Linked DNA regions of Homo sapiens. The protein of the gene in region 1 purifies or fractionates together with the protein of each later gene. This does not show direct contact. Each region holds a gene or a part of one and is shown on either strand. Other genes may lie near its edges.

The links.
Region 2: the proteins of TPH2 (region 1) and DNAJC12 purify together in Homo sapiens (affinity purification with mass spectrometry; 2 studies listed by BioGRID and IntAct, with this or other methods). This does not show direct contact.

What each region holds. Positions count from the first base shown.
Region 1 is NC_000012.12:71,927,362-71,944,340, forward strand, and holds the start of TPH2 (tryptophan 5-hydroxylase 2), read left to right. Parts: upstream 1-11,483; 5' UTR 11,484-11,625; coding exon 11,626-11,730; intron 11,731-14,222; coding exon 14,223-14,372; intron 14,373-16,932; coding exon 16,933-16,979.
Region 2 is NC_000010.11:67,828,189-67,835,188, reverse strand, and holds part of DNAJC12 (dnaJ homolog subfamily C member 12), read left to right. Parts: intron 1-7,000. UniProt on the Homo sapiens protein: Probable co-chaperone that participates in the proper folding of biopterin-dependent aromatic amino acid hydroxylases, which include phenylalanine-4-hydroxylase (PAH), tyrosine 3-monooxygenase (TH) and peripheral and neuronal tryptophan hydroxylases (TPH1 and TPH2).

The DNA.
Region 1 (16,979 bases):
TGGGATCTTACAATATGGGGAATTTAAGTTGTATATTTTTGAGGAGTTTTCTAATTACAGATGCTTTCCCCATTGTTGTATGCAGGCTTCTAATTTTCAGGCCATGCATCTTGACACAGGGAAAAATGGTGTGTCACCCTTAGATAGAAAGGTTGGGGGAGTGCCTGCGGTTGTACTGGACATCCACACTCTTTTTTAATATCCACAGCACCTCTTTCAGCCACCTGGGAAATTACACTGTTTATGAAATCAATGTTTAAAAGAAGTGATTGTAAACAAAAGTCTTCTAAGAACGATCAGGAATCAAGAATCCTATCATTTTTGCCTAATGTGATTCAATCCCTATTGATGAAATCAGGATGTTAGAATAATAGGAAGTGAACTATTAAGTATGCCTCTCCCTCTCAAATGATCTAGATAGTATATTGCCCCTCACATACCCCCTCTCTCTGCAAAAGATGACAGAACGAAAAGAAATTCCAGTAAGCTTTGCTGTGATCAATGAGCAGCAGTCAGTTTAGCTTAGCTTTTTAAATTAAAAAGACCTATTAACTTCTAAGATGGACTTTTACTGTGACAGTCAATAATGTGTCCAATATCACACTAGTCTGATTGGAAGCACAGGACCCAGTACAGTAGGTTGGTAGACTGCTTTAAAAATAGAAATAGAGCTATTTTTCTATGGCTTTGAGTGTTGTTTTCCCTGATCATGTAGGTACTAGAATCCCTTCCATTGGTGTAACTGACTCACTTTAGAAAGCAAGTTGCTCTCCAGTAGGAGAGCCATCAAGGTACTTCTGAATGTCAGCATTAACACTGCATGCTACCTACAGTCACTGTCAGGGGCACGAATATGGAGTACGTACCGAAAGATTTTGGCCACATGTTTTGTTAGCTAAGTCAAGTCTTAAATGAGCCAAATGTAGTATTTGCTGACTAGGAAGTAAGTCATTTGAAATTAACAGTATTTAGGCTGTACATGGTGGCTCATGCCTGTGATCCCAGCACTTTGGGAGGCTGAGACGGGAGGATTGCTTGAGCCCAGAAGTTTAATGTTACATTGAGCTATGATGGTGCCACTGCACTCCAGCCTGGGCAACAGAGCAAGACCCTATCTCTTAAAAAAAAAAAGTTAACAGCATGTAACCCTAATAGATTATATAGAGATTAAATTGTTAAGTTTTTGGAGTGAAATGTAAGTTCTTTTAGTTTTTGTACTTTTAAAAGTAATACTATTATAAACACATAGATGTCCCTTTACACACTTCTTCCCCCAAATGGACATCTGCTATTCCTTCTTTCGCACATCAAGGTGTAAAGTAGTGAAGTCTAAAAGCTGAATTTTTAAAACTTGCTCAAATATTTATCCCAAAGTTATTCAACTTTTGAATAACTTTGGGACAAATTATTCTTTTTTGATTAACAGAGCTTTTAAGCATTCTGTGTAAAAGCTAATGACTTCTTAAAGGAGGAGAAACTATAGTTCTCACTAGCTTCCTCCACATCCTACTAATAATGTTTTTCTAAACTAACCTTTGAACTTTCTGTGGAGAATGACTTTTGCCAAAGTTTTATTGACAAGTGAAGACAGGAGAAAATCCTTTTCATTGACATTTCATACCTGAAAAGCGCTTCATAAGCTACAGCTTACATAGTGGATGGGTTGTCTTGGCAAAGGCACATCTTAGGGATGGAATTTAAGGAATAAGAATGTGGTCAATTAGTTCAGATGGCAGAATTCTGAAGCCATCAGTCAGACACACTAGAATCCTTTCCCGATTGAAATTGCTTTTATCAAAAGGCAATAACCGATGCTGGAGAGGATGTGGAGAAAGGGGAACTCTCATACACTTGGTGGGAATGTAAGTTAGTACAACCACCATGGAGAACAATTTGGAAGTTAGTAAAAAAAAAAAAAAGCTAAAAAAACTACCATATGGTCCAGCAATCCCACTGCTGAGTGTACATCCAAAAGAAAGGGAATTAGAGTATCCAAGAGAGATGCGTACTCCCATGTTTATTGCAGCATGATTATAAGAGCCAAGATATGGACTCAACCTACACATCCATCAACAGATGAATAAAGAAAATGTGGTACATATACAGAATGGAATATTATTCAGCCATAAAAATAAAATTCTGATGTGACAACACAGATGTAAGTAGAGGACATGTTAATTGAAATAAGCCAGGCATGGAAAGATAAATATTTCATGTTCTCATTCATATGTGGAGGCTAAGAAAAATTGCATTTATGGAGATAGTAGAATGATGGTTACCAGAGGGTGGGAAGGGTGGTGGGGAGGTGGGACAAAGAAGGGGTGGTTAATGCGTATAAAAATACAATCAGAAGGAATAAGATCTAGTGTTTGGTAGCACAACAGGGTGACTATAGTTAACAATAATTTATTGTATATTTCAAAGTAAAGAGTAGAATTGGAATGTTCCTAATGCAAAGAAACGATAAGTGCTTGAGGTGATGACTATCTGCCCTCCCACCAAAAAAAATTCTTTCTCCAAATGTATTCCCCTTAATCCTAACAGGACAACTGAATCATTCTGAACATAAGAATACAACTTCCTTTAAAAAAACAACACACACACACACACACACACACACACACACACACACATACACAACACTTGTAGAAAAGGAGATTCTTTACCACAGAAATTCTCATTTTTATGGGTCACTCTGAATTTGATTTTGTGACACTTTTTCCCATGTCTGGATTGCTGAGGTTTCCACATCCTTCTTCAGCTCTACCCCTCAGAATTAGACATAAAGAAGTAAGTTTAGAAGAGAGTTTATTCTGTAAGAAGGTTTGAATTATAAATATTGTATTTGATAGCTTCACAATACCGAGTGGATCCATAAGAGGCCTAGCCTTGGTCCAGGGTTCACTCATATTTTAATTTCCTAAGTTTCCTGAGTTTTCCTTAAAGTCTCACATTGTCTAAGAGCATCACCATGGATTTTAAAAAATACAGTCTTCGTTGTTAAGCTTGCTTTAAAAAACTGCCGCCAGGCACGGTGGCTCATGCCTGTAATCCCAACATTTTGGGAGGCTGAGGTGGGTGGATCACCTGAGGTCAGAAGTTCAAGACCAGCCTGGTCAACATGGCAAAACGCTGTCTCTACTAAAAATACAAAAATTAGCTGGGTGTGGTGGCGGACACCTGTAATCCAGGCTAACAGGGAGGCTGAGGCACAAGAATCACTTGAACCGGGGAGGTGGAGGTTGCAATGAGCCGAGATCGTGCCACTGCACTCCAGCCTGGGCAACAGCAAGACTCCATCTCAAAAGAAGAAGAAGAAGAAAAAAAAGTAGAAGTTTTATATGCCTTATTTTTATTCTTGTTCTCTTATAATTTATATGCTATCACTGACCCAAAGTTTCTTGGCCACAATTTAGAATTGTATACCCATGTAAACTCAAATAATGTGAGCCGTGTTGATAGGTGGTACTTCAAATAATACAACTTGCTTTAGGGGCTTGTTTTCTCAAGTTCAAGGTGAATTCAGGGTGGAGTCTGGATGCCTGGGTCACCTTTATAAGGTGCTTTATATTCTTGCAAAGAATATAAAATTTATTCTATAAGCTTTGGAAGTCAAATGTCAGAAAATAATTTAGTCAAACTGAATTGTTCATATTAGAAAATGTCTACTTATGAAGTAAAACAAAAAGCTTAGACTAAGAACACAGATTGAGTCCGTCATGGGTCTGAGACCTGGTTCAGTTGCTTCTTAGTTTTGTGACCAGGCCTCTCAGCCCTCAGTTTCTCATTTGTAGATGAGGATATTACCTACCTCAGTTGTGAGGAGTAAATGGAGTACATATAAAATGTCTAATATGGTACTGGGCATGATAAAGCACTTATAAATGCTATCATTATTATTTCATGGCAACCAAATAGATACTGCCACAAACTATCTTTTTGAATCTTAAAGCTACATGGTTTGCTTTTCCTCCCCAAACATACTATCCTACAGATAGAGCCTTGAGGCACCCATTGGTTTTTTTTCTATTGACTGAGGTCATTTTGACTCCAAATCTGAACTGTGTATTCTGGTTTCTTCTGAGCCACAGCCTCACTGACCCCACCATAAATCACCATTCTTTTTATGCTTCAGTTTTCTTCATATTTGCTTAGATATGCTTGCCTTTTATCCATTCCCCCTTTATAAAAATTATTATTAAAAATGATGAAAGATGAGTGTAAGATACAGCTTATGTTTTGCTTATTTATGAAGTCTGATCACCCTCAAGTCAATAAATAATCAAAATTAAAAATGACATGTCTGCATTAAACATTTTTAGTAGTATGGGAAATTATGGTGTCTGACAGTCAGTGAACATTTTATTAGGCAACAAATTAATGCTTAATATTGTGGACAGCTGTTTTTGGTTATGCTTCAACATTAGGTCAATTTGGTCAGACTCTGATACCAAATTGTCCTGCTTGATTTCAGGTCAGATTGTATTATCTGCATGTCTAGATGGTTGACACAGCCTTCATGCAAAGTTTCAGTGCAATTTTTCTTTGTTTATCCTTTTTCCCTCTCAAAATGATAGTTTATGTAGTATTTGAGAGTAATCAGCAGGAACAAATACTTTTTTGTGTTATAAACACCATCTGTTACAATATGAGTTGAAGTGCTAAAAGCCACTTGAGTATTAATTTTCAGAAATTTTCATCTGAGCACAGTGTATCACTCATATTGACTATTGAGACTAATAATCAAGGCTTTTCACTCAAAGTCAGGAGAGATGTTGGTTTGTGCATATCTTGAAAATAAAATGGTGTTATGGAGGAGTCTGCTTGAGTTTCCTAAAGGTAAAAAATTGCATGCTTATTTCATTTCCTTTTACTGATAAGTTACAATACTACTAAATCAAGGAAGCACCTTAGATAGGCAATAAACTTATTTTGGTATGATATTCATGTGGTTAATTTGACAAAATTAGGAGCAGTTGGTAGTAATAGAGAACAATTGCTGCCAAGAAGACCAAAGTATACCCTATAATCTCTAGAAGACAAAGTTGATGGGAAAAAAATCCAGCCAAACTAATTGTGAGCTTGATTGTGTGCTATAAATATAAAGGTCAGCCCTTTCTCTTGCCTTGTTCAACATGAATTTAAGCATAGTAAGCACATGCACCAAATTTGCTTGTGACACATACTTGATAGACTGGAATGATGGCTTAAAACCTAAAGGACAAATTATTAAAGGAAAAGGAATCAGACTTTTTGTCGAATTCCAATCTTGAAACTCTCACTTTGCTTTGAGTATCTCCAAACTCTCACATCCAATATCTATCCTTTAATAACTTTACACCTGCTTTCTCCATTCACACTGGGGTGTTGCCAGGCAAATTCTCCCTTACTTTAAGTCTACTCATGTCCTTCCATTCTTTCTCCCGAACACATTTCTTTGCACTGCTGAAGCCTAGATTTCTCTTCACGACATTGCATTTCCAGCTGGCTTCTAACTTGGCCAGCATGGTGGGTGTGAGTGGTAAGGGAAGGAGAAGAAATAAGGAGTCCTCAGGCCTCTCACTTTCTGTCTATGAAATGGAAATTGGTAGGTGTGGATAGGTTGGTCTCTTCCAGTTGTGGGCCATGGATGCTTCAGCATCCCCTTGGTTGTCTTAGTTTATTTATATTGCCTTTTTCATTTCTTTGTTCATATGGGCTACAGCCTCTCAGAAGCCATTTCCATTTTTCCAGGTGTTTTAAGGACTAGTTTATAGTATTTCTCTCATTTCACTGCTTTCCTCAATGACAACAAATACCTATGTTGAGGACTCATTGGTGTTCTTAATATAAAACTTCCCTAATTTTGTGGACCCCTATTTCATATCTCAGCTGTTTGCCGTCATGGCCATTCATGATCACATGGCCCTCTTACACCTGTAAGATCTTATATTGGAGGTCTCCTTATCTGACAGTATCTCTTTTTATATTTTCCCACCCAATTTTTCGCTTCCTGATGCCTAGCCTCTTTAGCTGCTTGATCCAAGCCACTTCTGTTGGCTTACCTTGTGACTATTGACTTCTTACTTATCATGAATTATGAGGGCAACCACCTCATTAAAACCTAGGTATCCACGTCTCTTAAATTTCTGTCAAATATTGCAAACCAATGCTCAATTTTATATTACTCTGGCTTCAGAATCAATGAGGCATAGGGAGATAATTAACACTTTGAGTGTCGAATATCTGCCAGCCACCATGTTAATCACTTTATACATATACAATACAATCAGCATAACAGCCCTATAAGGTTTAGATATTATTGCCCTACTATTACAGAAATGGAGGCTGAAAAATGTGAAGTAATGTGTCCTGATTAAGCATAAGTAGGCAAATAGCAGAGTGAAGATTTAAACTTAGTTTTATTTTTAAAAATGTCTTATTTCCATGCAGTATTTATTTATTTATTTATTTACTTTAGAGATGGGGTTTTGCTCTGTCATTCAAGCTAGGGTGCAGTGGCATGACCATAACTCACTGCAGCCTTGAACTCCTTGGCTCAAGCGAGCCTTCTGCTTCAGCCTCCTGAGCAGCTGGGAATACTGCCACATACCATTACACTAGTAATTTTTATTTTTATTTTTGTCTTTTGTAGAGATGGGGTCTCATTATGTTTCCCAGGCTGGTCTTAAACTCCTGGCCTCAGCAATCATCCTGCCTTGGCCTCCCAAAGTGCTGGGATTATAGGCCTGAGCCATTATGCCCGGCATAATGTATTTTTAAAGTTTATATTTTTGTAATCAATATCACACAGGTACATGGTTTCCACAAGACTTTTTGTTATGAGAAACTGTTCCTCTCCTTCTCCCCGCCATCCATATCCTCCTACCCTCCCCAACCCCCACCAGTGGCGAGACTTTCAACTGTCAGGTCATGCTTGTGGTATTTACTTCCATATGTCCCAATGCTGTAATATGTGTATGCTGCTACTACTTTGATTTTCAGCTCTAGGCATTAACCATTGATTTTTCATCTTGGAAGACAAGAATTTAGCTGTTTACCCTCTCCCCACAGCCCCTATTATTCACATACACACTTTCTTATCTGTCTGTCTTCTAATATAATTGATATAATATTGGTTAGGTCAATATTTAGTGCTTATGTTATGACTTCGTAACTGTAATCCCCAAATGAGACATGCTCCCCTTCAGCCCTAATTTTCATTTTTCTTGGGGAGTTAATTCTTATCAAGGTTTTTTACTGGCTGATTTTATATACAGTTGTCACTAATCTAACCCCACACTCTCTACCAAATATTTAAATTGAGGCTTGTCAAATGTGAGCTTACCTACAGGGTAATCTGTTTGCATTATTTTGTTCAGAGCTTTCAATATTATCTGAGCTTTCAGTGTGTTTTAAGATCTTGCCTTTGCCAGATTCTCCAAAGATATTTTTTGTCTTTATTTGGCTGGAGAATAAATGCCTGGCTGTCAGACTTCTGAGGTTTGGGAGTCTCCATGTCATGATATCATGAGTCTCACTACCTCAATACATTCATTTAATCAGAATGGTACCCGTATTCTCAACTATGCCTGATGCTCCTAAGTACAGAGGCCCTTTGTTTTACCCTTTCCAGAGAATAACCTTCAATTTTCTACCTGGGGGCAAAAGAGGAGGTGGCTTGGCTATTTAGTCAAGGGGAATATGGAATTTTAACTCCTTTTTAAAAATAAGATAACAGCTTTATCGAGATATGATATATATGCCAAAAGATTCCCTCCCTTAAAGTGTACAATTTTGTGGTTTTTAGTATATTCACAAAGTTGTGTAAATATCACTAATATTTAATTTTATTAGTGATGAATTCTGTATGAATTTTATTAGTGATAAATTCTGTATAAAAATTCATTTTCATACAGAAACCTTGTACCTTTTAGCAGCTATTCCCCACCTCTTCTTTTTTTCCAGTCCCTGGCAGCCACTAATCTACTTTCTGTGTGTGTCTCTCTCTCTTTTTAAAACGATCTCTTTTTACATCTTCTAGACATTTCATATAAACAAAATCTTGCAATACATGCATGGTCTTTTGTGACTGGCGTCTTTCACTTAGCATAATATTTTCAAGGTTCACCCATATTGTAACATGTATCAGTACATTATTTCCTTATATTGCTAAATAACATTTTATTTATCATGTATCATTTTTTGTTTTTTTCATTAGGTGATAGTATTTGAGTTGTTTCTATTTTTGGCTATTATGAATAATGCTGCTATGAACATTCATGTACAGTTTTTGTGTGGATGTATATTTTCATTTTTCTTCGGTGTATACCTAAGGGTGGAATTGCTGAATCATGTAGTAACTCTAGTTTTACCTTTGTGAGGAACCGCCAAACGTTTTTTCAAAGTGACTACACCATTTTACACATAGCTAGGAGTGAAATTGTTGAGTCATACAGTAACTTTATGTTTTGCATTTTGAGAAACCACCAAACTGTTTCCCAAAGTGACTGTACCATTTTATAATACCACCAGCAATGTGTGAGTGTTCCACATTTTCTGCTTCTTTACCAACATTTGTTATTGTCTGTCTTTTTTATTTTAGCCATCCTAGTCGGTCAGAAGTCATACTGTGTTTTTTGATTTGCATTTCCCTAATGACTATTGATGTAGAGCACCTTTTCCTGTTTGCACTGGCCATATCTTCTTTGGAGAAATGTCTATTAATTTTTTTTTGCCCAGCCAGAGCATGATAGCAAGACCCTGCCTTTACAACAGCAACAAAAAATTAGCTGGGTGTGATGGCCTGTGCTTGTAGTCCCAGATGCTTGGGACGCTGAGGCAGGAGGATCACTTGAGCCCAGGAGGTTGAGGCTGCCAAGAACTATGATTGTGCCACTGCACTCCACTGTGGGTAACAAAGCCAGCTGTCTCAAATAAATTTTGTTTCCCAATTAAAAATTGGTCTGTTTTTTTAATTGCTGAGTTGTAGGAATTTTTTATTCTGGATACTGTTTCCTATGAGATATATGATTTATAAATATTTCCTCCCACATTGTGGGTTGTCTTTTCACTTTTCTGAGGGTGTCCTCTGAAGCACAGAAGTTTTTAATTTTGATGAAATCTTATTTTTTTCTTTAGGTACTTATGTTTTTGGTGTCCTATCTAAGAAACAATGGCCTAATCCAAAGTCAAAAACATTTACTCCTATCCTTTCTTCTAAGAATTTTAATTTTAGTTCTTACATGTGTGTTTGTGATTCATTTTGAGTTAATTTTTGTGTGCAATGTGAAATAGAAGTCCATCTTCATTATTTTGCATGTGGATATCCAAAGTTGTCCCGGGACAGTTTGTTCAAAAGATCATTCTTTCCCCATTGAATTGTCTTGGCACGTTTGTTGAAAATCAATTCCCTCTACATGTAAGGGTTTATTTCTGGACACTCAATTCTATTTCATTTACCTATATATCTGTCCTTAGTACCACACTGTCTTGATTATTGTAACTTTGTTATAAGTTTTGATTTGTCTAACTGCTTCTCACACTTTGAACCACTCTTTTTCAGTCTCATCTACCTTCAATTCCAGAGGTATTTGAGCCTTTAGGGTATTCTGTCATGTAAAGTGCGTTGCTTCTAAGTCTTCTTCATTGATAGCTTAAGGTTCAGCTTTCCCATGACTGCAAAGCCTTTGATCAGTTTTTTCTTCTTTCAAGCTGCTAATTTTTTGTTGCCATTGTTTTCCAACTTATGCGACTCTTGTGTACCTTGAAAAGGAATTTTTTATCTTGTTTTAATAGGGTTTCCAGGGTGAGCAAAAGTAGTTAAATCTTTAATATTCTAAATATATATTATAAATAAATTACTTTTAATATCTTTTTTTCCCTCATTTCCACATCCAAGCAGGGACACTATCTAGTGGATTTTATCCCTTCACATCTCTGGTTCTTTCATTACATCTCAGTAACATTAGCTACTATTATTGTCATTAGTTCATTTGCCTTATTTAAACTTGCTTCTCCTATTAGCTGATTAGAGCTGACCCTTACAGAAAATGTAAGCCAAATAATATTTTCAGAATTAGATCAATTAATAATTATGTCTCTTCAAGACTCCAGAAACAATTAAACTTCAGTCAATATTAGTTCATCCCGACTTGTTTTGAAATTTTTTTTCTATATAGACAAGCAGTGCCAGCACCAGATTTTGTTTAGATTTTCAGTCAAACAAGCACATTTGGTCAAGAGTTTTTCATTCTTCAGGAGATTGGTAACATTTTCCTGTGGCCTGGTGAATTTTATGACTTTCTAAGGTTTGAATAGTAAGAATATTGATTAATCTATGCATGTCAAGTTGCTGGATTTGATCTAGTTGACATTGATATTTGACAGTATGTTTAGTCATTAAAAGCTCAAATGTCATAGTACTCTTAACCTCTGCTTTCTCCTCACCACATAACGCACAGATCTCGTATATTTAAGTAGCACTTTTTATATGAAAGGGTCATGTCAAAGATTAAATTTCCATGATTTCCAGTAGAGAGAAAAACCACAAGAGTATTAAAATGAATGGCTGATATATGGGAATCTAGTTTCCTTTTATTTCTCATTTAGTAAGGAAGATTCCAGGATTAGTATCTGAGCTATATGTAATCTACATGTGGCTAAATTGAACCCTTACCTTTCCTTTGCAATACATTTTCCTCCATATAACTCTGCATAGAGGCATCACAGGATTAAGAAGAAGCCCTTTTATGAAAGCCATTACACATATATACACTCACACATTTGCATGCACAAAATTAGAATATGTCAAGTCAGAAAAAGCTTATTAACATAAAATGGAGTTGGTCAATGAGTAAAAAAAATATGCTGATGGGAGGGATAAGATCTAGTGTTCGGGAGCACAATAATTTATTTTCTTTTGTATTTTAAAATAACTGGAAGAGTGGAATTGGAATGTTTCTAACACAAAAAGAAATGATAAATGCTTGAGGCAATGGATATCTTGATTACCTTATTTGATCATTACACATTGTACGCTTGTGTCAAAATATCACATGTGCCTTATAAATGTGTACAACTATTAGTTATCCATAAAAATTAAAAATTAAAAAATCCGTAAAATGGTTTAAGCATTCAGCAGTGCTGATCTTTCTTAAATTATTTTTCTAATTTTGGAAAGAAAGCACAAAATCTTTGAATTCACAATTGCTTAAAGACTGAGGTTAACTTGCCAGTGGCAGGCTTGAGAGATGAGAGAACTAACGTCAGAGGATAGATGGTTTCTTGTACAAATAACACCCCCTTATGTATTGTTCTCCACCACCCCCGCCCAAAAAGCTACTCGACCTATGAAACAAATCACACTATGAGCACAGATAACCCCAGGCTTCAGGTCTGTAATCTGACTGTGGCCATCGGCAACCAGAAATGAGTTTCTTTCTAATCAGTCTTGCATCAGTCTCCAGTCATTCATATAAAGGAGCCCGGGGATGGGAGGATTCGCATTGCTCTTCAGCACCAGGGTTCTGGACAGCGCCCCAAGCAGGCAGCTGATCGCACGCCCCTTCCTCTCAATCTCCGCCAGCGCTGCTACTGCCCCTCTAGTACCCCCTGCTGCAGAGAAAGAATATTACACCGGGATCCATGCAGCCAGCAATGATGATGTTTTCCAGTAAATACTGGGCACGGAGAGGGTTTTCCCTGGATTCAGCAGTGCCCGAAGAGCATCAGCTACTTGGCAGCTCAACAGTGAGTACTACGTACCTGGCACTATGGAGAATTATTTTTTAGGGTGTGACCATCTTCTCCTCACCATATGAATCCCTTTTGTAGTGTAAGCACGCACACCTCAAATTTCTCCTTCTTTATAATCTGTCTACCCTGCTTTCCTCCTGTCTGCCTCCAGTCTTCCTCTTCTCTCCATAAGTAAAGCGAGTGTGCCAATCACTGCGTGCTCAACTTTTTTTCCGCAAAGTTTGTAAGTAGAGAGTTAAGAAGTTCCTGAACATTAAGAATGAGAGATTGTATGAATCAATGTCTTAAATCTACAGCCAAAAAAAAAAAAAAAAAAATGGAGTGTGAAGAATTTTGAAAAGCCGTTTATTATGAGGAGGAGGAGTAGGGAGAACAAATTAAATAAATTTCCACGGTTTTCAGAAGATCATTGTGTCTCCTACACCCCCTTCAGTTTACAAAGCCTGGTCTTTAAACATAGAACTATTATTTTCTCTTCTTAGTTATGGGTGCAGGTTATTGGAATAAAAGAAAGATTGGATTCCTTTCAAAAGTTTTTCTGTGTTTCACATTGCTCAATTTTTTTCAGTTTACTTGATGGAATAATGAAAGCAATACACCACTTGCTATAGTATTTAAGGGAGTTTTATGTTTATAATATCTACAGGATAAAAAAGCAGTATTTGCAGGATTTTAGATCCTGCTTTCAGGTAGTAGTCATGGGATTTAATAAAAACCACGAAATAAAAATGTATCCAGGTCCTAGTCATTAAAAATATTAAATGGTATTTTATTACTGTACTATCAGAGTTTATCAACCAAATCCAATTCAGTCTGTATCATAGAATCATCTGTTTTAATTTCGTAGCTCCAAATATGTGCCAGAGGGCTGCGTTGGACTGACATATTATTACTGATAAAAATGTTGAAAAGTAAACATGGCAACTTCTGTAGAATTATTTAAATCAATTTGCAAAAATGAGGCCAAAATGTAAATAGATTTTTTAACATTTAAATATCATGAATATTTGGATGAGATATTACAATGAAGAGTTTTGAAGTCATAATTAACTGCTAGAAGGAAAACAAAGTAAGCTCAGGGTAATGGTTAATGTATGACCCTTTTATATAAAAAATGCTACTTCTGTATGCAAGATCTGTGTGTTGTGTGGTGAGGAGGAGGCAGATGTTAAGAACACTGAGACATTTGAGCTTTTAATGACTAAACATACTGTCAAATGTCAATGTCTGCATAAACTTCTTCCCTCCCTCAAGTCATAAATAATAAAATCTCCATCTCTATTATATATAAATCTAGTGAGTAAGGCAATACTGATGTGTGAAAATAAAGCCAGTAGAGAAATCAGAAGAAGACAATGGCAGATAACTATTCACTGGGTCCCAAAGCAAACCTACATTTCTCAGTTTCATGAGGATGTAGTAGATTGGTACGATTGTATTAAATCACCATTTGCCAGGAGTTACTTCTATGTCTGCCCAATGCTGTATTTGCATATAAAGAATATAAAACAGACCACATAATTTTGCATTGTCTGTCAAATGAAAGTTTCCAGCTTGTTGTTTTTGTTTTGTTTCCTCCCATTCTATTCCTAAATAAAGTTTCCAGCTTTTTATTCTGCATTTCTGGCAATGTGACCTGAGTTACTGGAATCTGTCATTTTTTTCTTTAGCCAGCAGGATTAATAGACATTACTTCATCAGGCAATATAAAATCTTAAGTGGCTAATGAAGTGTTAATCTTTTTCAGTTTCTCAGATTTTTACTGTTTGCCCCTAATAATTAGCTGGCCAGGTTTCTTCCTTCCTGCCTTTCTCCTTTTTTCCTTTTATTTGTCACTGAATTTTAATAGTCACTTCTCAAATATTATCTTCTGACACAGATGGCCTTAGAGTTAGTTATACATGTGTCTGTGCTGAACTTTTGCAGGCAGATTCACATTGACAATGTGGATCTAACTGAAGAAAGTAATACTACCCATTAATTTCTGGGCATGTGCTGACATATTTTGGAATGAAATCGATATTTTGTTTTTAAAATTTAATTGAAACTAAAATTATTTTCAAAAATATGTTTGATCTTATTTTTAATATGGTTAGTAATTAATATAGTTTCCATAGGATTCAACGAGGCTAAGAGATCAAATTTTGTGCTGTAAAATAATCCTAGAAAGGCAGGAATTTTTCATATATGATATTGCAGGCGTTACGACAGTCAGGTTTTTGTTGCTATTAAAGTGAAGCAAATCTGATCCCCTTTTAATTTCAACCACTAGATGATGTCTTAGACCATTGGAAAATAGTGTCTCAGAATAAATTAGACCAATATTTATGACTGAAAGTTATGAGTGACACGGCAACTTCACCTTAAGTTTGTATGATTGGTGGAGCTTCCAGCTTATGAATGACATGTATGGGAAAAATCTAATTACGGAGGATTCTGGAACCCTAACTAATATTTTGTTTTATTATGCTTCGACATTCCTGAAGCTAAATAAACCTAACTCTGGCAAAAATGACGACAAAGGCAACAAGGGAAGCAGCAAACGTGAAGCTGCTACCGAAAGTGGCAAGACAGCAGTTGTTTTCTCCTTGAAGAATGAAGTTGGTGGATTGGTAAAAGCACTGAGGCTCTTTCAGGTGAATGTGAAATATCATTACATAATTTTAAAAGTGACCGTGTGCCTGGGTACAAACCTGTTATCTGCTATGAAACATTACTGAATCAATTTCTGGATAATGTGGTGAAAGATTCAAAGGAACCAAACTTCGTGAGGCTTTAAAAGGGGAGTTGTCTGTCAAGCAATGAAATAAGCAGAATTGCCTAAGCTGTGGCTTATTAATGCAGAGTTAGCTGGTTAGGAACTCTGAAGACTATTGCCAGGTTAGGAGGTCAGTACTTCAAAAACGTGAGCTTCACACCTGAAAATGAAAACACAAGAGCCAAACAGGGTATCTTAAGTAGCAAGAGCCTGCAACTTGATTTGATTTGTTCAAATTTGAATTTACACATGTCCTAGGAGCATGTTTATTATGAAAAACTGAGATACATGAATATAGGCACACGGTATTCCCCTAAGTCTCATTGTTTATGTGTCTTAATGTATCTTTTTGCGAAGATGAGTCACTCTCCTTATATTATATATTGTTGGGGTAGCTCTTCCCTTATCTTATAGAAATGTTCATAGCATCTTCTCAGGCCCAAATCTGTAGTTTGAACCCTCAAGAAAGATCCTGGTTAGGGATGAGGCTGGAAAAGCCCAGAAAAGCTGTTGTGTTCTTGCCAGCATGTACCTAATGGTTTCTGTACCCATCAGCAAACACCCTCCCTTACAAATGCATTTTGTTTGGGGGCAGTGGCGGTTGATGAGAGCTGTTAAGATAAGGAACCTAGCTCTGCGTGATGCCTTGGGCTGCTAGTGCAGTGGAAAGATAGCTGCAATTGCAGTTAGGGGGTTCAGACCTGTGTTATCCTGGCTTGGCTAAACACTAGCTGCTACTTAGGTTCAATTTCTTTATTTGTAAAATTGCATTAATAATTCCTACCTAACAGGATTGCTGGGACGACATAATATGAGTGAAAGTGCTTTGTAAAGTGTACAACTATGAGGCATTATTATGATGCCTCTATGATGATCATAGCAGGGGAATTAGAAGCCTGATTTGGCAAATAATTTCTTTTTCTCTTTTGACCTCGAAGAAAGGATCAGGCACCATAAACAGTGGTAATGGAAATCTGAGGAAATATTTTACAGACAATTATGTCATCCAAGGCTGTGTCCATACAGTGCCAACGGCAGGCCAATTCAATTAGACAGCTGGGTGCAGTGGATAAATTCCTGGAGAAGGAGTTAGCAGCCCTGAGTTTTCACTCTGCCATCAGCTAGTCACGGGGCCTTAGCTAAGCCATTTAACCCATCTGGACCTCAGTTCCCCTAAAAACATCTACTCTGCTTCAACCAAAGGTCATTAAAAGCCCAACGTGACACAATGTATGTGAAGTCTATTGGGCCTTGAACTTAATCTTAATATTATTATCAGCCAACTGAAAAAACATGCATGATATTATTGTAAAGGTTAATAAAAACAGAAATAGGACATTTAGTTTCCTCATCACAAGACCAGTTTCTTTATATAGGAGAGGGTGCTGTTTGATTTGATACTATGCTGGCACTGGAAACTATCTATCCTGTTCCTATGCTGAAAATTCTGAGATCATCTAGGATTGCATCAGGAATTGTGTTGGTAATCACAGTGTATCATCTGGAGTGAGAAGATGTCTGCTTATTTGTAGGTGGGTTGGGATGGAGAGAACAGAGTCTTCAATTAACTTAGAGGAAATGAAGAACACATCACTGGGGGAAATTCTAACCTGATTTTTAAATATTAAATCACTGCCCTTATCTCTGAGATCCATCATAGAGTGATAGTTGCAGCAACACATCCTTGGCTGAAGCTAGTTTGAAGATTGCCAAAAGAGAGCAATTATTAAATGATCCCATTTAGGGGTTATTATCATTATTTTTTTACCTTTTTTTCACCCTCCTTGCAATCATCTAAGTTGTTTGTTTTCCTTTTGCCTTCAAAGATCCTGTCTTGACTACTTATCTTGCTCCTAATTCTTTTTGTACCATATGGGTTACAGTTTGGCTAGTGTTTCCCAAGCCTCAGTCATTTCCATGCCACCTCCCCAATTTCTGCTTGCCTTTTGTACTGTCTACTTATAAAAAAATTATAAAAGCTTATTTCTGAAAGGTTATTTTAAAACTTTATTTTAAAAGAAAACTTTATATTAGGGGTTTGAGTTTTAGTTATGTTTTTCAGAAACACATAAATCTGGATATTACATGATAATATAATAAATAATTTTTTCCCCAAATAATCACGTGCCACCTGTGGGATGTGTACCACTCTGTGGGAAATGATGATGTTCATTTTACAGGGCCACTTTATATTTTAAATGCCCCTTCTATTTTTTTATGAGGCAGGACAACCTATACACAGAAGTATAAATATATAGATTTTTTATTAATGGAAATAATGGTTGGAAACATTTCCAAGTTTTATTCAAAGAACAAAGAGATTGTCTCTTCCTCTTGTGTGGGTACTTGGCACCTTGCTTAAGATGTGAACAAGAAAAGCTCATGGCATTCCTTTTATTGTCCCTGAAGGTGATTTTCAGATGCTCGTGTTTCCACAGGAAAAACGTGTCAACATGGTTCATATTGAATCCAGGAAATCTCGGCG
Region 2 (7,000 bases), on another chromosome or scaffold:
AATTGAATTGAGACACCCACATAATACTTTTGCTTTGGTATATAGTTCTTACAATTTAAAGTTTGTGCTAGAAATTGATTAAAGTAAAATTATGTATTTTCTAATGGTTCTAGAGCAGTAATCCTGAAGCTTTTCCTTCTCAGAGAGTTTTTAAAATTATCTTTCAGAAATTGAAAATACAACCATGAAAACAAGCAATGAGACTAATTTTCTAGTTTACATAATGACATATATAAATTATGGGAGGATTTCCATGTTATATAGAAAACAATATATTCCCCATTTCAAAACAATTTAACAAAGATTGATTCCAAGACAGTTAGCCTTTCTCCCTATATTGGATTTTTTTTTTAAATTTTTGTTTCTTTGAGATGAAGTCTCACTGTGTTGCCCAGGCTGGAGTGCAGTGGCAGGATCTCAGCTCACTGCAGCCTCCTGGGTTCAAGTGATTCTCCTGCTTCAGCCTCCTGAGTAGCAGGGATTATACGTGCATGCCACTATGCCCAGCTAATTTTTGTATTTTTGTACAGATGAGCTTTCACCATGTTGTCCAGGCTGGCCTTGAACTCCTGACCTCAAGTGATCCGCCGCCTTGGCCTCCCAAAGTGTTGGGATTACAGGCATGAGCCACCGCGCCCGGCCTCTATTCCTCAGTTTTCTAACCTGTAAATGGAAGTAAATAGTACCCACCTCACAGAGTTGTGGGGATTAAATAATACGTGATATATAAAGTACTTTGAACAGTGCCTGGTGCAGAGCGCTAAGTTGTGGTGGTTGTGGTTGTGGCTGTTGTTTTGGCCCCCACAGTGTTACTGTGCACTTGGAACTTAGTACACTTATCCTATCCTTGAGTTTGCATTATTTTTAAGATGTTTTATTTTGCAATAATTTTTGACTTACAGAAAAGTTGTAAAAATAGTACAACAGAGTTCCTATATACCCTTAACCCAGCTTCCCTTTATGTTAACATCATACCTAATGAAAGTATAATGATCAAAATCAGAAATTAAAAAAAATTATAGCTCTGAGGCATTTTATTATAAAAGCTTGGTACTCATATACATAAACTAAAATGAACTTAAAATTCATCATACATTTACTTCATTTTTTAGCTTGACCTTCTAGTAAATTTCTAGCTTCACTGATTTTGGCTGCTATGATTTAAGAGTATAATTTATCAATGAGCATCTCTTATTTTCCCTTTTTTGGCAGTAGGGCTTACCCCTAGCATTAATGCTGCTTCTTGTTTTGTCATTTTGGGTTCAAACTCACCTCAGTAATAGCCACCACTGAAGGCAGATTTTGATAGACTTTGAAAAACTTGCTTTACTTGAGGCTCCATGTGCTCCATGGCTTGCAAAACATAATGGCCTGCAAATCCTGCAGCAGCAATGGTCAGTCCAACTGCTACCATTGTACTGGCCATGGCTATAGCTGGGCTCCCTTGCCTCTACCGAGAGCCTGGATCATCCCAGCCCAGAGATCATGGCCCAAAACTGCACACCTTTACCAGAGTGACGCAGCCACCGATCGCAAGCACAAACCACCAAAAAATCAGAAAATTAACATTGCTATAGTTAACCCTACCATGGTCCAGCAAACATTTTTTTGTAAAGGACTAGATAGACAGAGTCAGGACTAGAATGAGGCAAGTAGGGTGTGTAGGATGCAAAATTTAAGGAGGCACTAACATTTAGGGTTGCGCATGTACAGAAATTTGAGAGAGACAGAGAGAGAGAGAGAGAGAGAGGGAGAGGGAGAGAGAGAGGATATTTCCTTAGACCTAGGTGTCCTGCTTGCCTCACCTAATGCTGATCCTGGCATAGCAAATATTTTAGGCTTTGCAGGCCTTACAGTCTCTGTCCTAACTACTCAGCTCTGCCATTGGAGAAAACAGCCATAGACAATATAAGTGAATGATCTTGGCTGTCTTCCAATAAAACTTTAATTAAAAAACAGGCAGCAGCAGGCCAGAGTCAATCAATCCCTGATCTAAATTATAAGTCTTATCTAATTTCATCAGTTTTCCTAATAATGCCCTTTTTCTGTTCTAGGATCCAAGCCAGGATCCCTTATTACGCTTAACCCTTAATGACCTCCAATCTGATGCTTTCTTCTACCTTCTTTGTCTTTCATGACCTGGACAGTATGAAGACTACTGTCAGTATTTTGTAGAATGTCCCTCAATTTGACTTTGATATTTTCTCATGATTAGATTGAGGTTATGCATTTTTGGAAAGAACTCCTCAGAAGTGATGTTGTGCCTTTCTTAGTATCTCATGTGGGGGTGCATGAAATGGATGTGCTTTATTGACCTTGAGCACTTCGTTAAGGTGATGTCTGTCAGGTGTCTTCTGCTAGGTTTTTCCAAGGTAGGGTTATTATTTTTCCTTTTGTAATTAACAAATATCTTGGGGAAGGTACTTTGAGACTGTCCTGTTTCTTCTCAAACTTTTACTCACTAAGTTTAGCATCCTTCAGTGGATCTTGCCTGTAACAGTTACTACTATGGTGTTTGCCTAATGGTGACTTTCTTTTTCTCATTAATTTTACATTTATTAGTATTCTACAGTAAGGAAATTCTTCAGTAAGGAAAAACTATCCCTTCTCCCACATTTATTTGTTTATTTGGCTTAGTTTTATCACTATCAATTAATAGTTATTGTATTTTAAGTGTTATAACCCAAATATTACCATTATTTATTTTGTGTCTCAAATTGTTTCTATGCCTCATGACTTAATTAATTATCATTTGATTAGAGTAATGTAGGAGGATCTCTCATTTATTTCAGGGATATTGCTAATATCTGGAATTTTGTGGGAAAAATCTAGTTTTAAACTGAGTGAATTAAAATAATATATATCAATTAAATCAGTATTAAAATGAATCTTCTTTTCTTTCTTTTCTTTTTTTTTTTTTTTTGAGATGGAGTTTCACTCTTGTTGCCCAGGCTGGAGTGCAATGACGCAATCTGGGCTCACTGCAACCTTCGCCTCCCGGGTTCAAGCAATTCTCCTGCCTCAGCCCCCCGAGTAGCTGGGATTACAGGCATGCGCCACCACACCCAGCTAATTTTTTGTATTTAGTAGAGATGGGGTTTCACCATGTTGGTCAGGCCGGTCTCAGACTCCTGACCTCAGGTGATCTGCCCACCTCGGCCTCTCAAAGTGTTGGGATTACAGGCGTAAGCCACTGTGCCCAGCCAAATCTTCTCTTTTCTGCAGCACATTTTGCATCATATGAATTTCCATCACTGGAATCAATTCACTCTTAATGAATTAGCCATAATTTTCAGAAAGCTCCTATTACACTATAGTTATGTTACTTGAAGAACATCTGTCAGTCTATGATCAAGTATTTATTGAACATTTCCTGTTGGGCCAGTACTAGAAGTGACATAGGGTGGGGAACAAAACAAAACAAAACAAAAAGGTGAGACATGATGCTAGTGTATAAAGAACCTGGTATCCAATTGAGGAGCCAAAGCTAATACACAGGAAACAATTTGAGAACAATTAAGTATTGTGCTCTGTACTGTCTATAAGTGCAGCAGAAATTAAAGAAAGAATATCTGAATAGACTTCAGAAAGAGATGGGGCTTGAAATGGCCTTACTAGATGGCCATAATTTTAATGCACTGTGGGAGAGACAGGGCATTTGTATGGCTAGGAAATCTTGGAGAATATTCATCCAAGTGGGAATTGGATTAGTCTCCATGGCACACTGGAGTATTTCCTTGCTTAGACAAAAATATTTTGCTAGCAGAATATGGAAAAGATAAGTTTCTAAGTTTTAAAATTTAAGTTCTAAAATTAATATATGTTCAATAAGGAAATGTGGAATACAAAGAAAGCACAAATAAAAATGTTAACCTACATGTTTAACATTTTGGAGTATGACTTATACATGTTAATTATCTGTGCATATATGCTATATCTGTATATGTATATAAATAAGTAAATGCATATGTGTATATGTATGTACGTATGTATGTATTTTTGAGACAGATTCTCACCCTGTGGCCCAGACTGGAGTGCAATGGTGCGATCTCAGCTCACTGCAACCTCTGCCTCCCAGGCTTAAGCGATTCTTGTGTCTCAGCCTCCCAAGTAGCTGGGACTACAGGCACGTGCTACCACACCCGGCTAATTTTTTGTATCTTTAGTAGAGATGAGGTTTCACCATGTTGGTCAGCCTGGTCTCCAATTCCTGACCTCGTGATCCGCCCACCTTGGCCTCCCAAAGTGCTGGGATTACAGGCGTGAGCCACCACACCTGGCCTATGTGTATGTATTTATATGTGTATTTTTGTATGTATTTGGAGTCAGACTGCATGGGTTCAGTTCCTAGATGTGCTACTTATTAGCTGTGTGACCTTGGGAGAATTCCTTAATTTTTCTATGTCTTGATTTCCTAATCTGCAAAATGAGAATAATGATAGTATTAACCTCATACAGTTGTGGGAATTAAATGAAACATTCTATGTAAAGTGCTTAGAAAAGTGCCTGGCACATATTAAGTATCAAAAAATTTATTTATTTATTTATTTATTTATTTATTTATTTATTTATTTATTTTTTGAGACGGAGTCTTGCTCTGTCGCCCAGGCTGGAGTGCAGTGGCGGGATCTCAGCTCACTGCAAGCTCCGCCTCCCGGGTTCACGCCGTTCTTCTGCCTCAGCCTCCTGAATAGCTGTGATTACAGGCGCCTGCCACCACGCCCAGCTAATTTTTTATATTTTTAGTAGAGACGGGGTTTCACTGTGTTAGCCAGGATGGTCTCAATCTCCTGACCTCGTGATCCGCCCGCCTCAGCCTCCCAAAGTGCTGGGATTACAAGAGTGAGCCACAGCGCCCGGCCTATTTATTTATTTTTTGAGACGGAGTCTTGCTCTGTCACTCAGGCTGGAGTGCAGTGGCGCGATCTCAGCTCACTGCAACCTCCGCCTCCCAGGCTCAAGCGATTCTTGTGTCTCAGCCTCCCAAGTAGCTGGGACTACAGGCCATGCCAGGCTAATTTTTTAATTTTTAGTAGAGACAGGGTTTTGCCATTTGGCAATTGGCCAGGCTGTTCTTGAACTCCTGACCTCAGGTGATCTGCCCGCCTCAGCATCCCAAAGTGCTGGGATTACAGGTGTGAGCCACTGCACCCAGGTCAATAAATTTAAAATGATAATAATTATCATTATTATATACATATATAGTTACATAATCCCTTTTGAGATAAGACATGGATTTAAATTGCACATAATACTTACATATTATTATATGCAGTATAACATAATATATTGCACATATCTTACCTTTTCTCATAGAAATATTTAAATTTTCTCAGGTTGTTAAAAATCTTTTATGACAAGATAATTTTTTAAATGAGTAAAGTATTCTAACCTACAGTTACATTACAATCAACTATAACAAACATCCTATTATTGGACATATAGGTTGTAAGAATTAAAGAAAGAGGAGAGAAACACAAAGGGCGGCTTGACAGTCAACAGGGACAGATTTGTTTATTTATTTTTATTTTTTATTTTTTATTTTTTTGAGACGGAGTCTCACTCTGTCGCCCAGGCTGGAGTACAGTGGCGCAATCTCGGCTCACTGCAAGCTCCGCCTCCCAGATTCACGCCATTCTCCTTCCTCAGCCTCCGGAGTAGCTGGAACTACAGGCGGCCGCCACCACGCCCGGCTAATTTTTTTGTATTTTTAGTAGAGACAGGGTTTCACTGTTTTAGCCAGGATGGTCTCGATCTCTTGACCTCGTGATCCACCCGCCTCGGCCTCCCCAAGTGCTGGGATTACAAGCGTGAGCCACCGCACCCGGCCTGACAGGTTTATTTTGAATAAACCTGAGAGGGGCGGCTGGCTGAGTTAGGTTAGAGACACACTCTCCTACAGACTAAGAGTTTCTAAGGCTTCAGGGTGGGAGAGTTTATCAGAGGCTTGGACTGCTTCTCTGTCTCTTTGTTGTGCTTTTCTGGGAGGGAGAGTTGTGTGTCTGTTCCCATCCATCTTTCTGCAGCTGTAGGCATACCCCGCCCGAGTCTGCTTTTTGCTTCCCTATCTTGGTACACCTGAAGGGAAAGGAATGTGCTTATTAAGTAAGGCTCACTGTTTTACTGGGGCCCATTTTGTGAGGGTGAAGTTTGGCAGTTGCTCCAGAGACTTTCCCCCCACCTCCCTCTGCGCCCGAGCTGTCTTATTTGTGTTTTACTGTCTGCTCTTTCTGGCTGCTTGTAGTTCGAACAGAAGTGATTTCCTTGAAATGCATGAGACTAGAAAGGGAACTGGAATTTAAAGTGGCGATGTCTGTCTGAGTTGATGGTGCTCTTGCTCTATCATAGGTTTTTGTTTAAAATTTATATTTTATTCTTGGACCTTCTTACAGCTATTCTTTTCTTACCTCTGATTATCTCCTTAGACAAATTCCTAGAATTGGAATTGTTGAATCAAAGGCTAGGAAATAAATTAAAGGCTCTTCATATATATGTGTGTATATATATATATATAGAGAGAGAGAGAGAGAGAAAATAGAATATTTAACACTTTAAAATTTAAAAACAAGTCTAGATCTCAGTTTTATTTGTTATATAAGCAGGTTATGGTGACTGATGGTTAAAGACAGCACCCAGGAAGAGGAAACACATAGTTAATTACAGTTCCTAACAGGAAGTCATCTTTTCCTATTATTCGAAGGTGTTCTCAGAAGTTTAACAAAGAAAATAATAGTTATTAGTCTGGGTTTTATACATATGCCTATCTAATACAGCCTGACTTTGATTGTAAAAGTGAAGACATTCCTTATGAGAATTGACTAAGGATGACATGGAGCTGATCTACATATAGAGAGATAGATACACACATATATCTATATATAGAGAGATAGATACACACACATATATATACACACACATACAAACATATATGTCTCAATTTTTTTCAAGAAAGTCTATACCTATTTACATCCTCGCCAGCAGAGCATGAATGTTAATTTCT